Linked DNA regions of Homo sapiens. The protein of the gene in region 1 purifies or fractionates together with the protein of each later gene. This does not show direct contact. Each region holds a gene or a part of one and is shown on either strand. Other genes may lie near its edges.

The links.
Region 2: the proteins of ALDH9A1 (region 1) and HDHD5 purify together in Homo sapiens (affinity purification with mass spectrometry, with the first as the bait; one large-scale study listed by BioGRID). This does not show direct contact.
Region 3: the proteins of ALDH9A1 (region 1) and CSTF1 purify together in Homo sapiens (affinity purification with mass spectrometry, with the first as the bait; one large-scale study listed by BioGRID). This does not show direct contact.
Region 4: the proteins of ALDH9A1 (region 1) and CIAPIN1 fractionate together in Homo sapiens (co-fractionation; one large-scale study listed by BioGRID). This does not show direct contact.
Region 5: the proteins of ALDH9A1 (region 1) and ACAT2 fractionate together in Homo sapiens (co-fractionation; one large-scale study listed by BioGRID). This does not show direct contact.
Region 6: the proteins of ALDH9A1 (region 1) and TNIP3 purify together in Homo sapiens (co-immunoprecipitation; one large-scale study listed by IntAct). This does not show direct contact.
Region 7: the proteins of ALDH9A1 (region 1) and THOP1 fractionate together in Homo sapiens (co-fractionation; one large-scale study listed by BioGRID). This does not show direct contact.

Annotation. Positions count from the first base shown.
Region 1 is NC_000001.11:165,678,063-165,681,562, reverse strand, and holds part of ALDH9A1 (4-trimethylaminobutyraldehyde dehydrogenase isoform 1 precursor), read left to right. Parts: intron 1-879; coding exon 880-1,076; intron 1,077-1,980; coding exon 1,981-2,121; intron 2,122-3,500. UniProt on the Homo sapiens protein: Converts gamma-trimethylaminobutyraldehyde into gamma-butyrobetaine with high efficiency (in vitro). Can catalyze the irreversible oxidation of a broad range of aldehydes to the corresponding acids in an NAD-dependent reaction, but with low efficiency.
Region 2 is NC_000022.11:17,149,278-17,152,777, reverse strand, and holds part of HDHD5 (haloacid dehalogenase-like hydrolase domain-containing 5 isoform 2 precursor), read left to right. Parts: intron 1-3,032; coding exon 3,033-3,236; intron 3,237-3,500.
Region 3 is NC_000020.11:56,399,145-56,402,644, forward strand, and holds part of CSTF1 (cleavage stimulation factor subunit 1), read left to right. Parts: coding exon 1-213; intron 214-3,500. UniProt on the Homo sapiens protein: One of the multiple factors required for polyadenylation and 3'-end cleavage of mammalian pre-mRNAs. May be responsible for the interaction of CSTF with other factors to form a stable complex on the pre-mRNA.
Region 4 is NC_000016.10:57,430,386-57,433,885, reverse strand, and holds part of CIAPIN1 (anamorsin), read left to right. Parts: intron 1-1,325; coding exon 1,326-1,399; intron 1,400-2,619; coding exon 2,620-2,735; intron 2,736-3,500. UniProt on the Homo sapiens protein: Component of the cytosolic iron-sulfur (Fe-S) protein assembly (CIA) machinery required for the maturation of extramitochondrial Fe-S proteins.
Region 5 is NC_000006.12:159,760,545-159,764,844, reverse strand, and holds the start of ACAT2 (acetyl-CoA acetyltransferase, cytosolic), read right to left. Parts: upstream 2,801-4,300; 5' UTR 2,758-2,800; coding exon 2,703-2,757; exon of another isoform or gene 2,513-2,702; intron 2,367-2,512; exon of another isoform or gene 2,208-2,366; coding exon of another isoform or gene 2,066-2,207; intron 1,927-2,065; coding exon 1,792-1,926; intron 1-1,791. UniProt on the Homo sapiens protein: Involved in the biosynthetic pathway of cholesterol.
Region 6 is NC_000004.12:121,147,322-121,150,821, reverse strand, and holds part of TNIP3 (TNFAIP3-interacting protein 3), read left to right. Parts: intron 1-602; coding exon 603-719; intron 720-3,500. UniProt on the Homo sapiens protein: Binds to zinc finger protein TNFAIP3 and inhibits NF-kappa-B activation induced by tumor necrosis factor, Toll-like receptor 4 (TLR4), interleukin-1 and 12-O-tetradecanoylphorbol-13-acetate.
Region 7 is NC_000019.10:2,795,503-2,799,002, reverse strand, and holds part of THOP1 (thimet oligopeptidase), read right to left. Parts: intron 2,923-3,500; coding exon 2,815-2,922; intron 1-2,814. UniProt on the Homo sapiens protein: Involved in the metabolism of neuropeptides under 20 amino acid residues long. Involved in cytoplasmic peptide degradation. Able to degrade the amyloid-beta precursor protein and generate amyloidogenic fragments.

The DNA.
Region 1 (3,500 bases):
ATTGTAATGTTAGAAAGCATTACTGTTAGGACATTATATTGAAATGCAGCTTTTGTCCTGTTGCCATTGCATGTTCTTGTTTTAGCCTATTTCTCTTTGAGATACAGCTGTGAAAGAGGAAAAATAGTCACTAGCTTTAATAGTCACCAGAATTAAGTCACTAGCTTTGGGGACTCTCATCAAGTGAACCATTCTGGTCTTCAATGTCAACTTTTATAAAATGGAGCTAATGATACCTACTTCATACTGCTGTTGAAAGTGTTAAATGAGATAATATATGTGAAAAGGCCTAGATATGCAAATGTGAGACTGGGCAACTGTAGGGTTTGGGATCTGTTTAATGAGAGAAACCAAGATGAAAAGGACAAGAGTTGTTTACTTATTGATATGGTTTGGCTGTGTCCCCACCCAAATCTCAACTTGAATTGTATCACCCAGAATTCCCATGTGTTGTGGGAGGGACCCAGGGGGAGGTAATTGAATCATGGGGGCTGGTCTTTCTCATGCTATTCTCCTGATAGTGAATAAGTCTCATGAGATCTGATGGGTTTATCAGGGGTTTCCGCTTTTGCTGCTGCTTCATTTTTCTCCTGCCGCCAATGTAAGAAGTGACTTTCACCTCCCGCCATGATTCTGAGGCCTCCCTAGCCATGTGGAACTGTAAATCCAATTAAGCCTCTTTCTGTTCCCAGTTTCGGGTATGTCTTTATCAGCAGCATGAAAACAAACTAATATGGTTATTAATAACATTTTTGATGTAGGATTTGGTTGGGGAAGAGGAAACAATTGGAATCATTTTTGAATTGTCCTCTAGTCCTGTTTTCAGGGGATCACTGGTCTTAGAAAGTCTTTTTATGTTTGTGTCTTGGGTTTATGCAGGTAATGCCATGGTCTTTAAACCTTCTCCCTTTACACCTGTTTCTGCATTGCTACTGGCTGAAATCTACAGTGAGGCTGGTGTACCTCCTGGGCTCTTCAATGTGGTGCAGGGAGGGGCTGCCACAGGCCAGTTTCTGTGTCAGCATCCCGATGTGGCCAAAGTCTCCTTCACTGGAAGTGTGCCCACTGGCATGAAGGTGAGGACAAAACCAGTATTGGTCAACACACATGGCATTTGGATGTGGCAAATCCGGTCCTACCCAGAGTATATTTTGGAGGCTTCTCTTTTGATTTTACCTAGCCTGAATTGGGAATGGGAAGGAGATTTTATTAGGCAGAGGTGTGAAATTTCCTGTAAAAGTATGAAGGGGGAAAGGGAGTACACATGGGGTGATTTGTGTTAGGCCAGGTAGGGGTGGAAATTAACAGCCCCAGCCTAAGGAGAGGATGTGTCTTAGTGGACAGGGGCCTGGGCTGCCACTTGTATTGTTTAGTGACTTAATTTCTTGTATAGAAGAAAGGATTTTTACTCAGGCTATTTCAGATCCATTATTTTGACATTAATTTGTGTTCTGAACTCTGTCAGCCTTAAACACAGTAACAATAACACAAAAGAATTTCTGGCTATGACAATCCTGTGAATTGACAATATTTTTTATTTTTATTTTTTTGAGACAGGGTCTCACCCTGTTGCCCAGGCTGGATTATAGTGGTGTAGTCACAGCTTACTGCAGCCTTCAACTCCTGGGCTCAGGCAGTCCTCCTGCTTCAGCCTCCTAAGAAGCTGAGACTACAGTCATGTGCCACTGTGCCTGGCTAAGTTTCTTATTTTTCTGTAGAGATAGGGTCTTGCTATGTTGCCCAGGCTGGGACAATATTTTTTAAATGAACTCCCTCTTCTAATGTCAGTGCAACTCTGTGGATTCTCTTCAGTTTTCTGGAATAGAATATTTTAATAGCCAAAAGGCAAAGGATATTGACAAGAATAAGGCTACAGGTCACAAACAGTTCAAGATGATTTTGTAGGTTCAGGGCCTAGTTGACTTAGCATGCAATATAATTTGTGTTAAAGTTCTGAATACCTTGTCCTTGTTCTGCAAGATCATGGAGATGTCAGCTAAAGGAATCAAACCTGTTACCTTGGAACTTGGAGGCAAATCTCCACTCATCATCTTCTCAGACTGTGATATGAACAATGCTGTAAAGGGGGCGCTGATGGCCAACTTCCTCACACAAGGCCAGGTATGTACCTGTCCCTGGAAGAGGTGTAAAAGGAATCTCTACCCCCTCATCCAACAGTGTGTTTTAAAGCTTTTTGTTTTACAATACTTTCAGACTTACAGAAAAGTTGCACAAATAGTACAAAGAATTCCCATGTACCTTTGAACCAGATTTCTCAAATATTAACATTTTAACAGATTCACTTTATCATCTTCTTTATCTGCCTGTACATACGTAGGCATATTAAGTTTTTCTGAACCTTGAGAGTAAATTGTAGACATAAGGCCCCTAACCTCTAAATATAAAGTTCCTAAAAACAAGTGCATTCTTTTACATAAGCACGGTACACTTAGTAAAATTAAAAAATTAACATTGATATAGTACTGTTACTGAATCTATAGCCCTTACTCAATCTATAGCCCTTATTCAAATTTTGCCACTTGTTTGACTAATGTCCTCATAGTAAAATAGAACAAAAATGGTTTTTTTTCCGGTCTAGGATCCAGTCAAGGATGATGCATTGCCTTTAGTTGTCTTGTCTTTAATCTCCTTTAGCTGAGAACAGTTCTTCAGTTATTCTTGTCTTTCAGGACGTTGACATTTTGGGAGAACAGGCCATTCATTTTGTAGAATGTTCCTTAGTTTGGGTCTGTCTGATGTTTTCTGTTAGATTCATATTATGAATTTTTGGCAAAAATACCACAAACATGATGTCATATCCTACTCAGTGGTGATTTAACTTTGATCACTTGCTTTAAGGTAAGTCCTCACTGTAAAGTTACTGTTTTTTACTTTGTGGTTAATAAGATCTTGTAGGAGGTATTTTGAGACTATCCTGTTCCTCATCAAACTTTCATGCAGTAAATACTTCTATCACCACTGACGATTCTTGCTGAAAACAATTTTTATTATGGGGTTGCAAATGGTGATTTTCCAATTCCATCATTTCTTCTATATTTGTTCACCTTCTACTGTAAGAAAGAACTTGCCCTTCACCCCTGTTTGTTTTCCATTCATTTATTTATATCAGTATGGACCCATGGATTCTTATTTCATTCTATGTGTTATAATCCAATACTATCATTATTTATTTATTTTTTATTTTTATTTATTTACTTACTTATTTTTTGAGACGGAGTCTAGCTCTGTCCCCCAGACGGTAGTGCAGTGGCACGATCTCGGCTCACTGCATCCTCTGCCTCCCAGGTTTAAGCGATTCCCCCGCCTCAGCCTCCTGAGTAGCTGGGATTACAGGTGCCCGCCACCATGCCCAGCTAATTTTTGTATTTTTAGTAGAGACAGAGTTTCACTGTGTTGGCCAGGCTGGTCTCAAACTCCTGACTTCACAATCCACCCACGTTGGCCTCCCAAAGTGCTGGGATTACAAGTGTGAGCCACTG
Region 2 (3,500 bases), on another chromosome or scaffold:
AGACATACCTCAGCTTCCTGGACCCCACACGCTCTTGGTTTTCCTCCTTGCACTGTCTTTTGCTGGCAGGTCTTGTGTGGTCCATTATTAAGTAGTATTGTTCTTCCTGGTTCTCTGAGAGGCGAGACCTTCCAAAATTTTCATCTCCAGGACCTGTCCAGTGCTGATGTCTCCACTTGCCTGTCTCCCAGGTCCAAAGTGGGACTTAACCTTGTATCCTCCAATGACCTCTCGCTGCCCGCTCCTACTGTGCCCTTTGGTTCAGTGACTCATACCCGCATCCACCCTCCCGGGTTCCCAGACCAAAATAAAAAAGCATGGGAGTCCGTGTGGCTCCCTCTTCCCTCCACCCCTGTATCTGGATGGTTACCAAGTCATGACTGTTCTGTCTCTGATAATGCCCCCTGATCTCCATTCTTACCACCACTCTCCCAGGTAAATGCTCCATCTTCTCTGTCTTGGGTTGCATTTGGTCCCACCTGGTCTTTCAGTTAACTCCCTTCAGTCCACCCAATGCAGTCTTTTCTCTGCAGCCAAATTTTTTTCTATAGTTCAGGTCTGATGATACCACTTTCCATTTTCAAACTCCTTAAATTGGCCTCGGAGACCTGTGATGGCCAATCTTCCCCACCCCTGTGGGTCAGGTTCCTCTGGTGTGGGCCTATCTCTTAGTGCAAGGCTCCCTGTAGACTGTCCTGGGGCTGCCTGTCTAATTGTCTTCTCATTGAACCAGGTAGGCAGGCAGGAACCACTCATCTAGTCTGGGGGTGACTGGGGGGTGCAAAGAGTTTTGTTACAGGATGTATTTAACACTTTCATTGTCTGGCTCAAAATTCTCTTTGAAGAAACTGCCTTTGTTTAATTCTGTTTATTTATTTAGAACTTACCTAGAATTGATTTGCACTTGCAAAAATGCTGCTGTTTTAGAGTTTGCTTTCTAGGCTGGTTGCTTGCTCTGTCACCTTAGCTAAAAAGTAGGTACTGGAGCGCCTTTTCTCTTCTCTTCTCTTCTTTCTTTCTTCTTCTTTTTTTTTTTTTTTTTTTTTTTTTAGTAGAGTCTAGCTTTGTCGCCCAGGCTTAAGTGCAGTGGCACGATCCCGGCTCACTGCATCCTCTGCCTCCCAGGTTCAAGTGATTCTCCTGCCTCAGCCTCCCGAGTAGCTGGGATGACAGGCGCCCACCACCACACCCAGCTAATTTTTGTATTTTTAGTAGAGGCGAGGTTTCACCATGTTGGCCAGGCTGGTCTTGAACTCCTGACCTCAAGTGATCCACCCTCTTGAGCCTCCCAAAGTGCTGGGATTACAGGCGTGAGCCACCACACCTGGCCTGTAGCGCCATTTCTGTTTCTGGTTGCTCTATAAAGGGAGCTCTGTGCGTAGAGTAGGTGTGTCAGTAAGAATGACTTGACCTAGTTGGCACCAACAAAGAAAAATAGCAAACAAGTTAGGTTAGGTTTTTTTGATGATTGAAGAACATCTTGTATGTTAACAGGCAGTTTATAAAATGAGAAATGGAATGATTTTTAAAAACAGCATTCAGCTTTATAAATCCAGGAAATGCAGATAGAAAAGAGATAATTTTTTTACCTTTAAATTATAAAAAAGTTTGATAATTAACAGTTGTGAAAATCAATATTGTAAGGGTAAAGTACGTTGCCAGTGGACATGTTTTTGAACAGCAGTTTGTCAGTTGGTGTTTATGTAATTACATTTGCTCTCTCTGATTTATTACTCCTATTTTTAAGAATCTAGCTCAAGGAAATACCCATAATATGGGAAAAAAATCAGTATTCCTGAAGAGGTTCCTTGTAGCATTATTTTTCATAGCAAAATTGTGGAAAAACCTAACTGTCCAAAATATAGAGAACAATATTAGTGAATTATTCACTCAGAATAGTATGTAGCCAGAAATGATGTTTAGGAAATAGAGCTATGCATAATTAATATGGAATGATAGGGCAGGGTGCAGTGGCTCAAGCCTGTAATCCTAGCACTTTGAGAGGCCAAGGTGGGTGAATCACCTAAGGTCAGGAGTTCAAGACCAGCCTGGTCAACATGGCATAACCTCGTCTCCACTAAAAATACAAATATTAGGTGGGCATGGTGGGGTGCACCTGTAATCCCAGCTATTCGGGAGAGTGAGGCAGAAGAATCACTTGAACGTGGGAGGCAGAGGTTGCGGTGAGCTGAGATAACGCTGCTGCACTCCAGTCTCGGCGACAGAGCAAGACTCTGTCTCAAAAAAAAAAAAAAGACAGCCAAGAGATACCAACTAAAAAAGTAAGATGGAAAACAAAGTCAACATGATTCTATGTGTGTGTTAACATTAGAAAGGTGTGTATACTATAGATTTATAAAAGCCTTCTGGAAATTATGCAGGACAGGAATAGGACTAAGTAAGTTGGAGACAAGAAACTTTTGAAACATTTTTATATTGTCTGTAGTGATTGAGGTTATTTTGTTTTTAACTTTTTGCTATAATAAAATCTTAAAAGATGGTTATAAAGACTATTGTAATCCATAAAAATATTTATGATATGTCAAGCAAAAAAGAACGAGATGATGTAAAATGGCATATAGTTCATTTGTAGCTACAAGACAAATATGAGAATAGAGAAAAAAGGGGAACTATTAATTGGTTGTTTTAAAGTGTTGGGATTAGGCTGGACTCGGTGGCTCACGCCTAATAATCCTAGCATTAAATTTAGGAAGCTGAGGCGAGAGGATCCCTTGAGCCCAGTGGGTCAAGGCTGCAGTGAGCCGTGATCATGCCACTGTACTCCAGTCTGGGCAACGGGAAGACTCTGTAAAAGCGAATGATTAAAAATAAGTGTTGGGATTATATTTTCTTTGGATTTCTCTATTTTCTATTTAAAGATTGCCCTATCAGAATCCCATCTTCATTTTTTTGTTCTTTCTGACATAGGTTTTCAAGGGACATGAGTGACCCGAGGATGGTGTTGAGCCTCTCTTTGTAAGGGTTGTTTCTTTGTTACTCACGTACTGGTAATTATCTTACCATCTCTGCAGAGCCCACCCACCTTTGGGTTCCTGTTGGACATCGATGGAGTGCTTGTGCGGGGCCACAGAGTGATCCCTGCTGCTCTGAAAGCCTTCCGAAGGCTGGTGAACTCCCAGGGGCAGCTGCGGGTGCCCGTGGTTTTTGTTACAAATGCTGGGAACATCTTACAACACAGCAAAGCCCAGGAGCTGTCAGCCCTGCTGGGGTGCGAGGTGAGAAGGCAGCCAGAGGCATGGAAGCCCAAGGACCTGGTTCCTAATGGAGCCGCTGCCCCAGCTCCAAGTCCCTTTCCCCTGGGTTGGGATATGGAATCACCTAGTCCTAGGTCATGGCCACAGCTGAACACAGAAATCCTGCCTGTGTATTTGGCAGTTGTAGATTATGTCCTTGTATCTGTTTCTTTTCTTCTGGGCATTGGGGGTGTGAGTCCCTGGAAAGCAAAGGTCACACACATGTCTAGAACTTGCATAGCAGGA
Region 3 (3,500 bases), on another chromosome or scaffold:
ATATGTACGTAACTGGAAGCAAGGACGGCTGCATCAAATTATGGGATGGTGTTTCAAATCGATGCATCACAACTTTTGAGAAAGCACATGACGGTGCTGAAGTTTGTTCTGCCATTTTTTCCAAAAATTCTAAATACATTCTCTCAAGTGGAAAAGACTCTGTAGCTAAACTTTGGGAAATATCAACGGGACGAACACTGGTCAGATACACGGGTATGTGAGACGTTGATGTTACTTAACATTTCTGTAGTGTTTACACTTTCCAGAACTCTCTTTTAAGACCTCACAATAGAGCAACACAATATCTATGCATTGAGCAAGGCAGATGTTACCCTTTCTTAGATAAGAGGAAACCAAGACTTACAGGTTAAGTCATTTAGCCAAGGCTACACGACTTGGAAATAGAACGGTGCTTTCTTTGCTCTTCTGAGCACCTCACACCGTGGACTAGGGCTGGATTCCATGCAAGTAACATTTGAGAACCTGGTGATCCATTTGTAGACTGGCATGCCCTCTTCCCACAGAAATGTGAAAGCAATCCAGAGAAAAGTTTCCAATAGTAGATCTCAGTATTATTAATATATGTATTCATGAAAGAATGGCTGAGAGGGAAGATCTTATCCCATTCCTAAGAGAGCAGACCTAGCCCGCAAAGGAAACCACGTTAATTCTGAATGCAGATATAAAGTAGGCTCAGCAGACAGAAAAAAATTGCATCCACTGAATTCTCATTTATGTATGTTGGTCTCATTGGTAACAGTAGTGCCTGTGGAGTCTTTTTATAATGAAATCCATTTAAATTTATCCTATCACTAGTAGGGCCCAAGTCTGGTTATTTGATAATGAATGTTAAAACACTGTCTTCTGTTCCTTGTAGCAGCAAAGACTGTTGTTTGGTAGAAAACCTCCAGAAAATTTCTGATTGTTTCTTCCATTGTGAGATATGTTTGTATCATACACTAAAATTGGCATGAGCATAACTCAAAAAAAATCACAAGAAAACAGTATTGGAAGGGACTGGATTGTGTTTAAGTTTGCATTGAAGAGTCAGTGACATCTGACCCACTAGGGGGCAGCATAACTTGCCTTAGATTTGTCTCATTGTAACCAAAGTTCCCTTCCCCAGCCATCTTTCTGGCTTCTGGTACCACTAGCAAATCTTAGGAAGAGCCATTTTTATCATAATTCTTGGTGACTTCATTGAAACACTTGTATAAAGTTGTTCTGAAAAGTATTTATTATAAAGAACTACTTTATAATAGTTGTGTTTGTTGCAAAAAGAAGATAAAAAAGTGATCAGGGTAAATGTGAAAGTACTCCCCCTATAGAAGTTATAACTGTTTTAAGGAGTGTGCTGTATCTGGACAGATACACACCAGCCTACTGACAATAGCTTATATATTTGCTCTAGGAATGTTTTGGGTGTTTTATAATAGTATGAGGTTGATTGGCTTGTTTTAGTGGGGAATAGCAGTGTGGTTTTTCAAAAATGTGATTATGCTGAATTTATGCACAGATTCCCCTTTTCCTTTTTTCTCATTTCACAGGTCAAGCGCCTGTCATGTCAGCATGTTAAGATTTCTGTTCCCAGTTTTAATAATTAGTTAGAATTTGGGCCAGGCGCGGTGGCTCACACCTGTAATCCCAGCACTTTGGGAGGCCGAGGTGGGCAGATCACAAGGTCAGGAGTTTGAGACCAGCCTGGCCAATATGGTGAAACCCCGTCTCTATGAAAAATACAAAAATTAGCTGGGCTTGGTGGCGGGCGCCTGTAGTCCCAGCTACTTGGGAGGCTGAGGCAGGAGAATAGCTTGAACCTGGGAGGTGGAGGTTGCAGTGAGCCGAGATTGCGCTGCTGTACTCCAGCCTGGGCGACAGAGTAAGACTCCGTCTCAAAAAATGATAATAATAATAATTAGTTAGAATTCAGAGGGTTTTTGAAATGATGAAAAAGGAAAAACTATCAAAACTTTAGAAATTGGGATGCAAAAAATTAAAAACAATATAAATAACATACAGGACTGGGAGAAAATGGTTATAGCATATATACAGATGTTAGACATTGAGTTAACATCCTTAATCTATAAAGAGAACTCATATGGGAAAAAGATGAGTCCAAACTCGAGAAAAAAGGAGCCAAAGGACAGGGGGCTGCAGAAGAGAAAAATGGTCAGGAAATGTAAGAAAAGGTGGCCAGCCTTGCTGCAGACCCAAGAAATGAATATGGGGACCTGGTTTTGTTAATCAGATTTCAGGAGTCTTAAAGATTTATATTATCTACTATTGATAGAGATTTCGGGAAATCATATTTTGTTGGTCAGAGTCAGCTGGTAAAATATTTCAGCACAGTTTGGTGTCATATCAAAATTTTAAATACACGCTTTTTGACCCACTATATCTACTCTTAGAAATTCAACCTAAAGAGGTAATTGGACAGACATGCACATGCCCATAAAAGGATGTGTGTCCCAACATCATTTGGAGTGGCTGAAAGTTAGAAACAGCATAAATGTCCAATAAGAAGCACTGAGGAAATCTGTTACGCATCCATGGACAACATACACCTTTAAAAATAAGTATGCATGCTAACATGGGCTGAGCACTCGCACTCCAGAGCCTCCTTTGCATTCTCTTATTCTTAATCCTCACAGCCTTATGGGGTAGGTTCTGTAACTACTCCATGGAACAGATGAGAAAATTAAGGCTGAGGAATGTTAAGTAATTTGCCCAGGGTCACATTAGTGTTGAACCCACATCTGACCACACAGACTTTGTGTTTTTATCCACTAAGCTGTATTCTGTCTTTACAGATCTGCACTACATATGCTTGAATATTAATAGTATATGACAAATGCTCTGACTTAAAGAAGTTACAAATGAAGCCAGGGACTGTGGCTCACACCTATTATCCCAGCACTTTGGGAGGCCAAGGTGGGCAGATCATCTGAGGTCAGGAGTTTGAGACCAGCCTGGCCAACATGGTGAAACCCCATCTCTACTAAAAATACAAAAATTAGTTGAGTGTGGTGGCACATGCCTGTAATCCCAGCTACTCAGGAGGCTGAGGCAGGAGAATCTCTTGAACCCAGGAGGCAGAGGTTGCAGTGAGCCGAGATCACACCATTGCACTCCAGCCTGGGCAACAGAGTAAGACTCTATCTCAAAAAAAAAAAAAAAAGAGAGAATTTACAAGTGAGCACATAACACTTAGATATTTCGAAAGAGTATTCACCAAAGTATTGACTGTTACCTCTGATGGGTGCAATTATTAGGCAGTTTTTATTTTCCTTTTTATACTTTATTTGGTACTTTTAAACATAAAATATGTAATTTATAGTCATAAAAAGGCTTCCTTTTGGAAAGTAGATATTCATATACTTTGTCTCAGTAATTCTGTCTCTAGGAATTTACTCCTAAGGAAATAAAGCTTTCTGTACAAAGGATGTTCATTACAACATTACTTATAATTGATATAAACTAAATGTCAGGAAGTAAAAGAA
Region 4 (3,500 bases), on another chromosome or scaffold:
GGCATATTAGGATCCAAAACTGAAATAATACATAGGTATTATCTAGTTCAGCTCCTTCTTCTGCACCAGAAGATACCGAGGCCTCCTAATTTTACAGGACTGAGTCACACAGTTTAATTAATGAGGTCCTTCCAGGTCCCAGAATTAACGTTTCTCCTCAGAAGACCTCACAGTGTAGTGGTAATGGTGTATGAGAGTGCCCTGTTCCTGTTCTCATGTGCTTTTTTCCCCATGCCAGGAAAATCAGCTGTTCTTACTTTGAGGATGCTAAGACACTTATAAAACTATATTTCTTCTGACTAGAAAATTGTGTACAAGCACACGCGTGCACGCACGCGCACGCACACACACACACACACACAGCTCCATCCTCATCCTTCCTATCCCTATTTTTAAATGCCTGAATTGACCCAGCTGTGAGGTATGCAGACATTAACAGATATTTACTGGTACATTCCCACTTGTACGGTTTTGACTGTCTAACCTAAATCTTCAAGAAATCCTTTGGAATCTAACCTTTCGATTCATGGTTCCAGAATGGGTAGGAATAGCTTAGAACAGTTGGCCTTGTGGAAGGTATGAGCATCCAGCTGTGACAATGATCACTAGAGGGTACTCTTACCCCAAGGGCCTGCGAGGATTTGCCCACACTGCATCCGAGCCTCAGCTCTCTGCCTCTTCCTTGCATTCTCCTGACTAGACAGAGAACCAGGAAGTGTGAGGTTTGTCTGCCACTGATGGTGTTACCTTGCCACCAGCAGCTCTAGAGCCTATTTTCTTGTATGTAGCAGGTTTACATGAGGCTAAAGCTCTGCTATTTTTGAAGGTTTTGACACATTTCTCATTTAATCCTCAAAACACCTGCAGTAACATAGGAAGTACAATTTAACTTCATGTTATAGAATGGAAACTAAGGTATCGAGGAGGAAGCAATATGGAATGGAGGTTAAAAGCATCAGACAGGCTTTGCAGCCTGTGGAACCAGCCTAAGTGTCTAAACCTGTTTCCTCAGCGGTAAAAGTAGGATGACAGATAGTTACCTCATAAGGTTGTCAGCAGAATTAAGTTAGATAATGTATATAAGTGCTTAATATGGTGCCTGGTGCAAAGCAAGAGCTTAGCAAATGGTGACTTCTGTAACTATCAGCAAGTGGTTGGCCCAAGGTCAGACCTCTCAGAGGGGTAGAGCTGGACTGTGAACCCACATCTTCTGCCTCCCAGGCCAGTGTGTTCTCTTCTACACAGCAGGAAGCATTTATGTATGTTTGTAATTAATAGTTTCTGACTGTGTTTATGGAGTTTTTTCTTTTATTGCTTGGACTCAGTGAAACCTGCTGTGGACCCTGCTGCTGCCAAGCTGTGGACCCTCTCAGCCAACGATATGGAGGACGACAGCATGGTGAGCTGGCAGCATTGTCACTTGATTGCTTTCTTTCAGGCCCCAGTTTGGGTGTGAACAGCTATAGTGACCTTTCTGGACTTGTAGGTGTGAACGTATTTAAAGCCCAGATTTGTGACTATGCCTGTCACATCTTTGATTTAGAAGGAAACTCCATGTTGGTGGCTTTTTTTTTGGAGACAGTCTCGCTCTCTTGCCCAAGCTGGAGTGCAATGGCACAATCTCGGCTTACTGCAATCTCTGCTCCCGGGTTCAAGCGATTCTCATGTTTCAGCCTCCCAAGTAGCTATGATTACAGGCATGTGCCACCACACCTGGCCAATTTTTGCGTTTTTAGCAGAGACGGGGTTTCACCATGTTGGCCAGACTGGTCGCAAAACTCCTGACCTCAAGTGATCTGCCCGCCTCGGCCTCCCAAAGTGCTGGGATTACAGGTGTGAGCCACTGCGCTTGGCCATGTTGGTGGCATTTTAAATTTTTTAGCATCTCTTTTTCCCCACATAATTTCTTGTTCTCACTTCATACGATATGTTGAAAACTCTTGTGGGCATGTGTAAACCTGAAAAGATTTTGTCAGCTTAAATAGTTTTATTGGCACCTTTGGGCAAGTTGCTGACTGTTCCATGCTTTAAAAAGCACTATTTTCTATCTTTGGCCATGTCTGTAATAAAGTTCTTCATTTCTACACCTCTACTATTGAAGTTAGAGTAGTGAGCAAAATAAGTGAGGTTCATGCTCTCATAGGGTTTACAGACTAAGTGTCTACACATTTACAAAGAATTACATAAAGGTATATATAATTATTTGATTTTTATCTGGGATTATGTAAAAGATATTTTATTCCCTTTTTCACGTGACTCTTCATAAACACTTCTCTCTTTCTCTGTTCTGCCTGTTCCCTCCCTTCTCCCCACTCCTGCCCCCAACCCCCAACATGTGTATATTCTCTACACATTGCTGGCCAGTCATACAGCTTTTTCTCATGTAAATTTGTTTCTAATTCCTTTGCATCCTAGTGCATCTTCTGTGGATGTAGTTTAACTCACCGTTGGCCTCTTGAGCATGTGGTCAGGTTGAACATGATGATCAACCAAAAGGAGGACAGGGTGGACACCTTCTTTACCCTGGACTCCAAGTTTCCTCTCGAAGCCTGCAGTCACTTTAGCTTTTCATTAGCAGAGACCACGACTGTATCACTCATTGCTTTGAACACTCTCCAGGATCTCATTGACTCAGATGAGCTGCTGGATCCAGAAGATTTGAAGAAGCCAGATCCAGCTTCCCTGCGGGCTGCTTCTTGTGGGGAAGGGAAAAAGAGGAAGGCCTGTAAGAACTGGTGAGTGCTGGGGTGACTGGAGCCTGCCATGCTGCCTCCAGTGGCTTCATGCTGAAGACATCGCGGTGCTGTACTATTTTTAGAACATACATTTTCCAGGCTGGGCAACACAGGGAGACCATCTCTGCAAATAATTAAAAAAAAAAAAAAATTAGCCAGGCATGGTGGTATGTACCTGTGGTCCCAGCTACTTGGGAGGCAAAGGCAGGAGGATCACTTGAGCCTGGGAGGTCGAGGCTGCAGTGAGCCGTAATTGTGCCATGTATCTAATTTCACTCTCCCTCAAAACCCTACCAGTAAGCCACTATTGTGCCACTGCACTCCAGCATGGGCATCAGAGCGAGACCTTGGTGTCTTCACATTTGTTTTTATAAATGGATGGGAAGGATTGTAGAAAGTTAATCAGTGATGTTCATCATCAGCGTTAATCATCAGTGTTTTTTAAATGTAAAAGCTGCCAGCATTTACAAATCAGGAAATTTCAAGTGAAAACACAGATTTTTTTCCCTTCTGTTCTTGAATTTGGAAAATATGGCAATCTGGGTCCACTTTCCCCAGCATGATAACCAGCTGAAGCTTGAGTAGTGGCTGCCCTCTGTAGACAGAGCACACACGGTACTTCCCTCATCCTCCTCCCACTTCTGTCTCCCTCAGCAGCCTCTCATATTGCTGCTGTCTGCCTGGCCTATAGGCTTCTGAGTTATGACACTGGTGTGAAGAGAAAAGGCTTAAAGCACATTTTGGCACTGTTAGGATTTGGGATTT
Region 5 (4,300 bases), on another chromosome or scaffold:
TAAAATGAAGATAATAGGATATAACAGACTTGTGAGGAAGATTAAATGAGGTAATGAAAGGAAAGCATTTAGCACAGTGCTTTAAAAGCCTTAAACTTAGTAGACATGCACCGGTAGTCCCAGCTAGCTCAGAAGTTCAAGGGCATGGTGCACCATGATTGTGCCTGTGAACAGCCATTGCACTCACGCCCAGGCAACAGACAGACTCCACTTCTACAAAAAAATTTAAAAAATTAGCCAGGTGTGGTGGCCTGCTCCTGTAATCCCAGCTACTCCAGAGGCTGAGGTGGGAGGATACCGTGGAGCCCAGGAGTTTGAGGTTATAGTGGGCTACGATTGATTACACCACTGCATTCCAGCCTGGACAACAGAGTGAGACCCTGTCTCTTTAAATAATAATAATAATAATTAATTAATTAATTACGAGTGTTCAAACCCAAAGAATCAGAAGATGGGGGCACTCTCAGGACTCAGCTATATTCCTCTGGGGAGTGATATGCCCCATTTGCAAGGGGCATGATGTGGCACCTATTTTCCAAGCTCAGAACTGAGCCCTAAGAGGGCAGGGAACTTACCTGTATTGTTGGAACCATACTCCCAGCACTAAGCACAGTATGGGGCACATAGGAGGAACTGAATACATTTTTGTTGAATGAGTGACACTTTGAGGTAGTAAGGAGGAGCAGGCATACTTTCCTATGCGTCAGGCTGGCCCTGCTGCTGCTTCTTCTTCTTCTTTTTAAAAGGAGTCTCACTCTGTTGCCCAGGCTGAATGGAGTGCAGTGGCACAATCTCAGCTCACTGCAAGCTCCGCCTCCCGGGTTCACGCCATTCTCCTGTCTCAGCCTCCCAAGTAGCTGGGAATACAGGCGCCCGCCACCACACCCGGCTAATTTTTTGTATTTTTAGTAGAAACGGGGTTTCACCGTGTCAGCCAGGATGGTCTTGATCTCCTGACCTCATGATCCGCCCACCTCGGCCTCCCAGAGTGCTGGGATTACAGGCGTGAGCCACCGGGCCCGGCCGGCCCTGCTTCGTAAGAATGAAAAGGCAGTGGGCCGCCTGTAGTCCCAGCTACTCGGGAGGCTGAGGCAGGAGAATGGCGTGAAACCGGGAGACGGAGCTTGCAGTGAGCCGAGATCACGCCACTGCACTCCAGCCTGGGCCACAGAGAGAGACTCCGTCTCAAAAAAAAAAAAAAAAAAAAAAAAAAAAGGAAAAGAAAAGGCAGTGTAGGTGGTGTAGGTCAGTGGTCTAAGTTCATTCACAAAAAGCATATTAATGAAGCTAAGTCTTTTTGTTTGTTTAGAGAAGGGGTCTCACTCTGTCACCCATGACGGAGTGCAGTGACACAATCACTGCAGTCTCAAACTCCTGGGCTCAAGTGATCCTCCCACCTCAGCCTCTCCAGTAGCTGGGAGGCACAGGCCATCATACCTGGCTATTTTATTTTTTGTAGAGACGGGGTCTTGCTTTGTTGCCCAGGCTAGTCTCAAACTTCTGGACTCAAGTGATCCTTCCTCCTCCGCCTCCCAAAGTGCTGGGATTACAGGCGGGAGCCACCCTGCCTGGCCAAGAAGCTGAGTCTCAAGCTGGATAGAAGCTACTGACAGGGCTGGAAGAAGGGGGCCAACAGGAGGAATCATAACAGAGGGAACTCTGAGCAAAAGCAAGGAGGCAAGAACTTGAGTGAGTGAGAGAGTGTGTGAGTGTGTGAGAGTGTGTGTGTGTGTGTGTGTTTATGGGCTGTTTCTAATAAGCCTGACTTCTCCTGGAATCACTGAGACTTACCTGCTGCCAAGACATGTCCAAAGATGACCTCAGACACATCTTCCGGAGCCACAGTGGCCCTCTTCAAGACTTCTTTGATGACAGTGGAGCCCAGGTCCTGGACAGGAACAGCAGCTAAGGCACCATTGAAGGAACCTACAATAGAAAGGCGGAGAGCGTGGACATCACAAGCCTGCGGGTAATACGGGAACCACCTACGAGCAGGGGAGCCTCATGACCCTGTTTGGCAAGGCCACGCGAGGAGGCAGTGCCCTCTCCTCCCACACGTTCCTACACCTGCTGGTCTGAGCAAAGGTCAAGGTGGGTGCCACAACTCGCAGCAGCCGAGGGCTGGACAGGCGACCTCCAGAACGGCCTAGGGACGCCGCTGTAGCCCTTCTATTTCCCCAAATCCGAAGGACTGGATGCGACCCCATGCTTCCCAAACAAAAGGAACCGGCGGGTCAAGGGCGTTGAAAACCATGCGGCACGAAGGAGACGAAGTCACGACTTCTAGCCATTGTGTGACAGCCCGACCCCAGCCCAAAGCCGGGCTCAGACCACCTAGCAGTTCCGCCCCTGCCGCAGGCATTACCGATGGCGCCTCCCGGAGCCGGCCAATCAGGGGCCCCGGAGGAGAACACCTCCCTACGCCAACCAATGGGAGAGGCAGGCCACGCGATGGCTCTACCCCGGGAGCCAATCCAAGCACGAGGGACGGAGTGCGCACATCGGGAGAGGAGAGGGTGGGGCTGTAGCACCAGGTCAGGGAACGCGGGAGCCGCAGGGTTCCAGGGATCCCGCGGCTCCTCGCGGCTTGGCCTGACCGGCTTCCTCCACATACGCCCCTCTCCTACACAAGTCCGGCCCTCGGCGCTCCTGCCGAAGCAGCAGGCGCCTCGGACTCTGCGCGGCTCCCGCCGGCCACTCACCTATGATGGTCCGCGCCGCCGAGACGATGACCACAGGATCTGAGCCTGCATTCATCTTGCTTCTCCTGCCGCCGTCTGCCCTGCGCTGCCTGCAAGCTAGGCAAAGCTCCTCCTCGCAGCCCACAGGCCTGCCGCGGGCGGGACCTGAGGTAGCCCCGCCCCTCGCCCTCCACCTCCCCGCGCACCACCTCCCCGCGCATCCCACTGTGCGCAGGCGCAAGGCCGGAGCAGGGGCGGGCGGAGGCGCGCGGGGCGCGGGGCGCGGGGCGCGGGGCGGAAGTGAGGCCGGGGCGCGGGGCGCGGGGCGGAAGTGAGGCCGGGGTCTGGGCTTGCGGGCAGAACCGCGGACCTCGGACGCATTTACAGAGCGCCTGAAACCCCAGTGTTTCTGGACACCCCAATGTTGGAGTTCCCCGACTTGACGTCTTGGGCTTTTTTTTAAAAAATCTTAGGGTTTCTCGAAACAGTAAAGACTGGGGGGTGACAAAGACTTATCTCTCGTTCAGCTCAGGACTGGAATCCCACGGGCGAGAATCTCGAGTGCGAGCCCGGCCCGCGGCGGGTCTCAGCACAGCTCTGATGGGTCCTTTTGCTCTCGGCGGCTTCGGGAGGTCCTATGCGTTTCTCCTGGCGCCAGTCATTCGCTCGCGTGAGGGGCTTGCTAGGAGCGTCTCGGTGCGAGCCCCCTGCCTTCTAAGATCAACTCTGGCTGTGAACGGGTGAGGACGCCGGGAGCGTCTTAGCGTCACAAAAGTTCCTTTGGTTGACGTTTGGACAGTGAAAGGAGCATGTAACAAGTGGGGTCAGTTTTGTTTAAAACCCTTTCTGACTTCCCAGCCTCTTACTGGGCAAAGTTCATAATTTTTCTGAGCTTTCTAGGGTTTCCAGGCAAGCTTATGAGGGGCCACCGTTACAGCAACTTGTTGGGAACACCTGGATAGTGGAACAAGAAAGCTTTGTCACAAAGTCATGAAGGGGAAAACTGTTGACGGACCTGGAGAATCTTCCTGAAGAACTTTAAAGTTGATTGAAAGAATCATTAAATCCTGGAAACCTACATTAAGACTTTGCAGAGATATGCGGATGGGTCAGATAAATCAGAGAAGGTAAAGAGTGTAGGCCCCAGAGGTGGGGCAATAGAGAAGGAAAAAAATTGCATAACAGTGCAATTTCAGGAGAAATCTTTAGGGTCTGGAATAGTGGTGAAATCAGCTGTCTACTCTGCTAAGAACTCAGCAGCACACTGAAGTCTCTTCAGTTGTCTTCAATGTGTTTCCTGTCCCCTAACATATCTGAGTCCAAGGAATTCAAGGAATGCCTCCCGTGGCTTTTGCTCTATTCTATCCCATTTTCCCCTTACTCCCTGGCCACTTCTGAGTCTTTGTGGGCTTACTCTCACATCCCCTTAACATGTTCCCCAAGGCTCCTACTTTGCACCAGCTCCCTGGGTAATACCAGTCATTCCTACGGCATCAATCACCACCTGTATACTGACAAGTCTGAAATCCTTACATCTAACCTCGTCTCCTAAGCTGACTGACCCTCTTCATTTAAATTCTTACAAGCACATCAGGTCGGGCACCTTGGCTCACACCTGT
Region 6 (3,500 bases), on another chromosome or scaffold:
CAACGCAACAGAGCTAACAGATAATGAATCTGCATGGGCTTTCATTTCTGTGGATGTCCCTCTCTCTTGTTGGAGGCATGCCATAGTTATATAGTAGAATGTTACTCAAAACATCACCTGGGACCAGCAGCACCAGCTTCTGAGAAATGCAAATTCTCAAACCATACCCTCCAGCCTACTGATTCATCATCTCTGGGAGTCAGTACCAAGGGATGGGCATATTTGCTGCCTCTGATTTTCCCTAAGGCTAAGCATCATTGAAAGGGTATACATTTGACTGAAGCAGAGAATCTGGAGAAAGTCTATAGATACAGATTTTGTTTTCATAGTTGGCTAGGTGGAGGAGGAGGGTCCAATATCAAAGCCTAAATAATAATGAGGATTGACTAACATAAGCATCATCATGGAAAAAAGACAGAGATTCTGAAAAAAAAAATACATATATGAGAAAATCAGAAAGAAGAAAGTTACTTGGTTATGTAAGCAGCGTTAAACATGAAATGCATATTTGTGGGTGCATTTGAGATGATTGTAACAATTATAAAAGAATTCATTCCATGTGGTAAATCTTAGATCAACAGTGTACTTATCTTATTACGTAGGCTCTTCAGGATGCCTTGAATATCAAGTGTTCATTTTCCGAGGACTGTTTGAGGAAGTCTCGAGTGGAATTCTGCCATGAGGAGATGAGAACAGAAATGGAAGTTCTGAAGCAGCAGGTGAGAAGCTGGAAGTGGCATGATCCTGTGGAGAACATACTGCCCATTTTTCATGCTTCTTTGGGCATTTTTAGATGTCTTGCTGCTAGAAATATGTCAAAGGTTTTTGCATTTATTTTAAGTAGAATTATCTAATTTTCAAGCTTGATAGAAAGAATACAGATCAGCTAGTTCAGTCCCACCATTTAGAACATAGGGAACTGAGTTTCAGACAGATTAAATGCTTACCCAAGATCACACAATTAAAAGAGGGGCACGCCAATTAACCTTTGGGTGAGGTTCTATTAGCACTGGGGCTAGGGAGTTTCACGTAGACATGGTTTTTGTTTTTGTTTTTGAGACAGAGTCTCCCATTGTCACTGAGGCTGTGGTGCAGTGGTACAACCTCCGCTCACCGCAACTTCCGCCTCCCAAGTTCAAGTGATTCTCCTGCCTCAGCCTCCCGAGTAGCTGGGATTACAGGCATGCACCACAATGCCCAGCTAATTTTTTGTATTTTTAGTAGAGATGGGGTTTCACCATGTTGTCCAGGCTGGTCTCAAACTTCTGACCTCGTGATCCACCTGCCTCGGCCTTCCAAAGTGTTGGGATTACAGGCGTGAGCCACAGCACCCAGCCACGTGGTTTATTTTAAGAACACTATTAATCCCAACTCTGGACTTTTTCAGAAAATGGTAGCAGCTGAGTGGTGATTCTGTAGTTGCTAGCCTCTAGGCCTTCGCACAATAAGAGCAGTTTCAAAGAAAATACTTTGTACTTATTATAATCACTGAAACCAGGTTTCTCAGCTAGTCCCGTGTATGGATGGCACCACTTAGCAATTCACTGATGCACAAGAGCATTCTCCTCCCCACTCACCTAACCTCACGCGCTATTGCCAAGTGGACAGCAAGAGTAAGGATGCACTCTCTACAACTTCCGCATGTATCTATTGGCAGCATAGGGCTGTGGAGATACTGCATTGGTTAAACTACCTGTGTCTAAATTTAATCAATCTGCTGAAATTCACTTAGCTGAGGGGCCGACCATGCATATCATGTCTCTTTTTATGTGAGAGGTTAAATTAATGTAGAGAAAAATCTGGAATGGTTCATGGCAATAATGATAAATACAGGATACATAAAGGAACCTCAATCCCTGAGGCACACATTGTCAGTAACATATTAGCAATGGGAGACAGGGTGTCATAGAACAAAGGGCTGGAAAGCATTATTTTTCTGATGTCCCTGGGTATGATTTACTGACTGGTTTTGCCCTGAGCAAGTACTAAGTACAAAGATTTTTGTTGCAATACATGGAAAAATTCAGCAATTGTGTTATGATTGTTGCTATTTACTTTATTGTTATTGCTTCATATGAAGTAGCCTGTGAATAGATCTAAAAATTTTATAGCATTTGATGGTGAAGTTGGATTTTCTGTTCTGTCAATTTTACTTGAATAATCTGCTTCATTACATTCAGGGTAAAATACATAGCTGAAAAATAAACCGACGAAGAGAATAAGGGTAATATGCACAGTCTTAAAGCTCTGTCAAACTCTCAACCCCTAAAGTAACTGTTGGTGCTAGCCAGGATTTCTTCAAAAACCAAAAGCACTGCTTATGTTCAAAACACTTGACATCTTCGGAACTCGCATATAAGGTACACCACATGCAAGAGTCACTTTTACACATAAAGTTTATAATAATGATTTGGTTCATATTTGTTACAGTGACAGATACTCTTTTTTCATAAACCCTGTGGGAAGACCAAAATCCATCTCCGTAGTTTTGCAGTGCCTCTACTGCTGACTTTCTCCATAAATATTTTAACTGTGCACGTTTCTAATCAGGCACCCGCAATCATTACATCACCAAGTGCCGCATGAAACACTAAAGGGTTTAAATGCACAAAGAAACTGAGTTGGAATCTTGGCCCCTACCTGACTAAAGTGATGATGTTGCCAGTGTTTAATTCTAATCAGATGGGCTCCTCCCATTTAAAATGCCTCTGGTAATTGTTTACAGAGCATCAGTTTAACTGTCTCTGGAAATGAATGTCAGTTCTCAACCAAAAAAATCATCAAAATGTCAATGTGGCTGGATGTAGTTTCCCTTCAGTGCTTCTGGTGAATAAAGCCTTAAAAATGTAATATGTGTATCTGCATGTAGATCTATACAAAATTTTTAATTTCTTCCCTTGCATATTTTGTTCTATTGCTGTCGACTTAGAACAATAAAATTGATAAACCTTTAGTTAAAATTTGTTGGGCTGTTAGTGATGAAAGTGTAATGTGCATTAGTTTTAATAGATAAAAATCTAGCTATAGGTTCCAATATAAGTAGTAATTTAAATCAGAATCTTAGAGGAATGTTTTTACTTCATTCCTTACCTTTCATTTGTTTTCATAGCTTTATATACCAGTCTGCTAACCTTCAGTCAACAGTAAGTCAGTTGAAAACAGTAACAATAATTAAACCTGTTTTTGTTTTTAGTTTAGTCACTTTTCTCAAATATTTGGAGTGCCTCTCAAGAGGTGTTCCACTCAAATATTACTATTATTTATGAGATACATCCAAAATAACTTATAAAAGGAAAATTTGTGAATACCTTTTAACAATCATGCTTTGCTTTTCCACATATGTAAGGGTTTCATTTCTTTTTTGCATTCAACTTATAATTTATGTCTGGAAACTTGGGCATGTCAGTATTTAGTGGCATCACTTAACATCTATTGTCAGTAAACTGTCTTTTAGAAGTTCAAGCAGTATTCATACATCAAAGCCCTTGTGTTAGGGATGG
Region 7 (3,500 bases), on another chromosome or scaffold:
AGAAACAGCTAAAACTCGACCCTGGTGATATGGGATATCAACAAAGGAACTGAATCTTGAGTGGTCCCTCTGGTGGCCTTGAAGGCTGGGAGGTGACCACTATGTGACAAGGACCTGGCTTGAGGCCACATGACACATGACAGGCTGGCAGCAGGGCTGTACTTTGACTCAGATTCTCCTGCTGGAAGCTCCGCCAGGCGGGTCTGGAGCCCAGCTCCATGGGGCCAGAGCAGAAATGCTCATCCGCAGGACAGAGGGCGGCAGCAGGGGGAAACTGTGCCCAGGACTTTGCAGGGAGCCTGTATCTTGTCAGGAAGGCCCTGGTTCAGAACCAGCTGAGGGTTTGCTGGGCCTCTCCTGGGAACAGGCCCCATGCTGGGCAATTCCCAATGTCTCCCCCTCTTGCCATCTCACATAACAAACCCAGCCATGCCAGGGAAGGCTCTGGAGACTCAATGAGCACACAGCGCTGGCCCTAAGGGCCGCGGGGACGCGCTGGAACTCTGCTCGCCAGCATCCGGACCTCGCACCTTTTCCGCGCTTCTGTCCTCCAGGCGGGGCTGCCTCTGCTCCCTCCTTGCTTGCTGGCCCTTGTGGGAGAGTTTGTGGCTTCTACCATGCACATGGCCACACATGCTGGGCATGCAACAAGCCGAAGGGGTTTTAAAAATAACTGTGGTACAGTGGCTCACACCCGTAATCCCAGCAGTTTGGGAGGCCAAGGCGGGTGAATCACTTGAGGTTAGGAGTTTGAGACCAGCCTGGCCAATGTGGTAAAACCCTGTCTCTATCAAAAATAAAAAAAAATTAGCCAGCTGTGTTGGCGGGTGCCCGTAATCCCAGCTACTCCAGAGGCTGAGGCAGGAGAATCGCTTGAACATAGGAGGCAGAGGTTGCAGCGAGCTGAGATCACACCGTTGCACTCCAGCCTGGGAGACAGAGTGTGACTCCCTGTCTAAATAAATAAATAAATGCATAAATAAAAATAAAAATAACTGGCTCTTGTCCGCTGCGGCTGAGCTGAGGACCCCCAGTCCCCGAGTACTGAGACGGACCCTGACTCCGCTTTCGTCAGTGCTGGTTTCACTGACAAACCCACCTGGCCTCTCTGAGTCTTGGTTGCCTCAGCCATAAGGTGGAGACGCCCCCTAACCAGGACAGCGGTGGCTTTATGGAACCGGAACAGGGACAGCCATGGGGCTATGGCTGCAGCCTGGGACCTGATTGAACTGTGTGCTTTCTTTCCTGTACAGATGCTCCCTGACTTAGGACAGGGGTATGTCCCAATAATCCCATCGTGAGTTGTGAATATCATAAATCACAAATGCATTTAATAGGAGCGAACATCACAGCTTAACCTGGCCTGTCTTAAGCGTGCTCAGGAACTCACAGCAGCCCACATTCTGGTGAGATCGCCGAAGGCAAAGGCTATCGGATATGAGGTGTTGGGTATCTCATGTAACTTCGGTTTTCAGTTTGCCTGCGTCATTGCAGGCTAGCTGGTAGCTGTGGCTGGCGCCCAGCGTCACAGGACAGCAAGTGCCCAAGTGGCCGGCCTCGGAAAGATCAGCATTCCAAGCACGGTTTCTACTGAACACACACCATGGTGAATCAGGGGCCTGTATTCTGATGCTTTGACATTTGGGTGCCTTGCTGGCCCTCGAGAAATGGCCCCTCCCAGAGACAGCCAACAGCTCGCCTGCAAACATCTTTCACGTGCAAATCAACTAGTCTCGAGCCCCTACACTCTGGGGCACCATCCACCGGCCCCCATTACCCTAGGGCCAGGCACCCGATGAGGGGCAGCCCCCATGCCAGGGCTGGCTGAGATGGTCCAGCCGGCCAACCCTGAGCCCACTCCCCGCTACACCCATGCCTTCACAAGGGACCCCAGCGAAGGCCCTGCCCAGAGCACACCTCCTGACCCAGCCATGCTTCCCATGTGGCGAGCTGCCAGTTCCTGGGAACTGTGACACGCATCTTTCCAGTGGCGGTCGCCACTGCTCTGTTGGTGCCGCTGAACACTGGGCTTCTGCTAACACACTACGCTTGACTTCAGCGCTGCGCTCCCAGCTCTGCACCAACTAACTCATGTCACCCCTGAGACGCCCACATCAGGCACACCGGGCAGTGGGTGGAGGGGCTCCCCTCGTTACCGAGCCTCTGCGCCCCATGTCTGTGTGGACCTGCCTTGCCAGAGTTCAGGTCCTCAGGCAGAAGAAAGATGGACATCAGGCCGGGGGTCAGCCCTGAAGGGGGGACGCTCCCGAGGAGGCAGGGGCAGGGGGCCACAGAAGCTCCACTGGCCACGCCCAGCACTCCCCGCACCCAGTACTCCCTGAGCCCAGCACTCCCCGCAACTGAGCACTCCCCAGGACTGAGCACTCCCCGTGCCCAGTACTCCCCATGCCGAGTACTCCCCAGACTGAGCACTCCCCACACCCAGTACTCCCTGGGACCGAGCACTCCCCCCACCCAGCACTCCCCAAGCCCAAGCACTCCCTGAGCTCAGTACTCCCCATGCCCAGTGCTCCCTGGGACCGAGCACTCCTCACACCCAGCACTCCCGGCACCCAGCACTCCCTGTGCCCAAGCACTCCCTGAGTCCAGCACTCCCCGGGACGCAGCACTCCCTGAACCCAGCACTCCTGATGCCCCAAGCACTCCCTGAGCCGAGCACTCCCCGAGCCCAGCACTCCCCCTGCCCTGCGCTTCTTGCTCCCACCACTCCCTGGGACTGAGCACTCCCTGTGCCCAGCACTCCCCGGGATCGACCATTGCCCACGCCCAGCACTCCCTACACCCAGCACTCACTTCCTGAGTCTCTCTGGGGAGGTGAAGCCCATTTCTCCGGCCCAGCTTGATTAGCCGCTCCAGGTACCGCGCAGCCTCGGGCCTCAGTGAGTCCTTCTGAACTTTCTCCTGGAATAAAAACATCAAAGCATGTAGGACGTGGGCCAGTGCAGCCGCTCCAAAGAGCAGTTTGGCAGTTTCTTAAAAACCTGATCATCCGGCCCCCGTGTGACTTGGCAACTGCACTCCTGGGCATTTATCTCAGAGAAATGACGACCTGTCTCTACATAAAACCTGTGCAAACGTTCGCTTTGTTTGGAAGAGCCCCACACTGACATCAGTCCAGAGCTCCTTCACCAGTGCGATGGCTGAATGGGAATTAGATTGCTGGTGGTCTCCAGGTCGGTATCGGGGTGTAGATGACACCATAGTTTTGCAAAACGTCATCACTGGGGACCTGGGCAAAGTTGGCAAAGGCATTCGATTCTTTCCTGCACCTGCATGGGAACCTCTCATTGTCTCAACAGAAACTCTGGAAAGTGGAGGTGGGAGGATTGCGTGGGCCCAGGAGTTCGAGACAAGCGTGGGCAACGTTGTGAGACCCTGTCTGTATTTAAATAAAAAGAAATAACAATCCACGGCTATCATGGGTCACCCTGATCTGGATTTACCAAAGCACTAGGGCTGCATGATCCTGAGACTGTGGG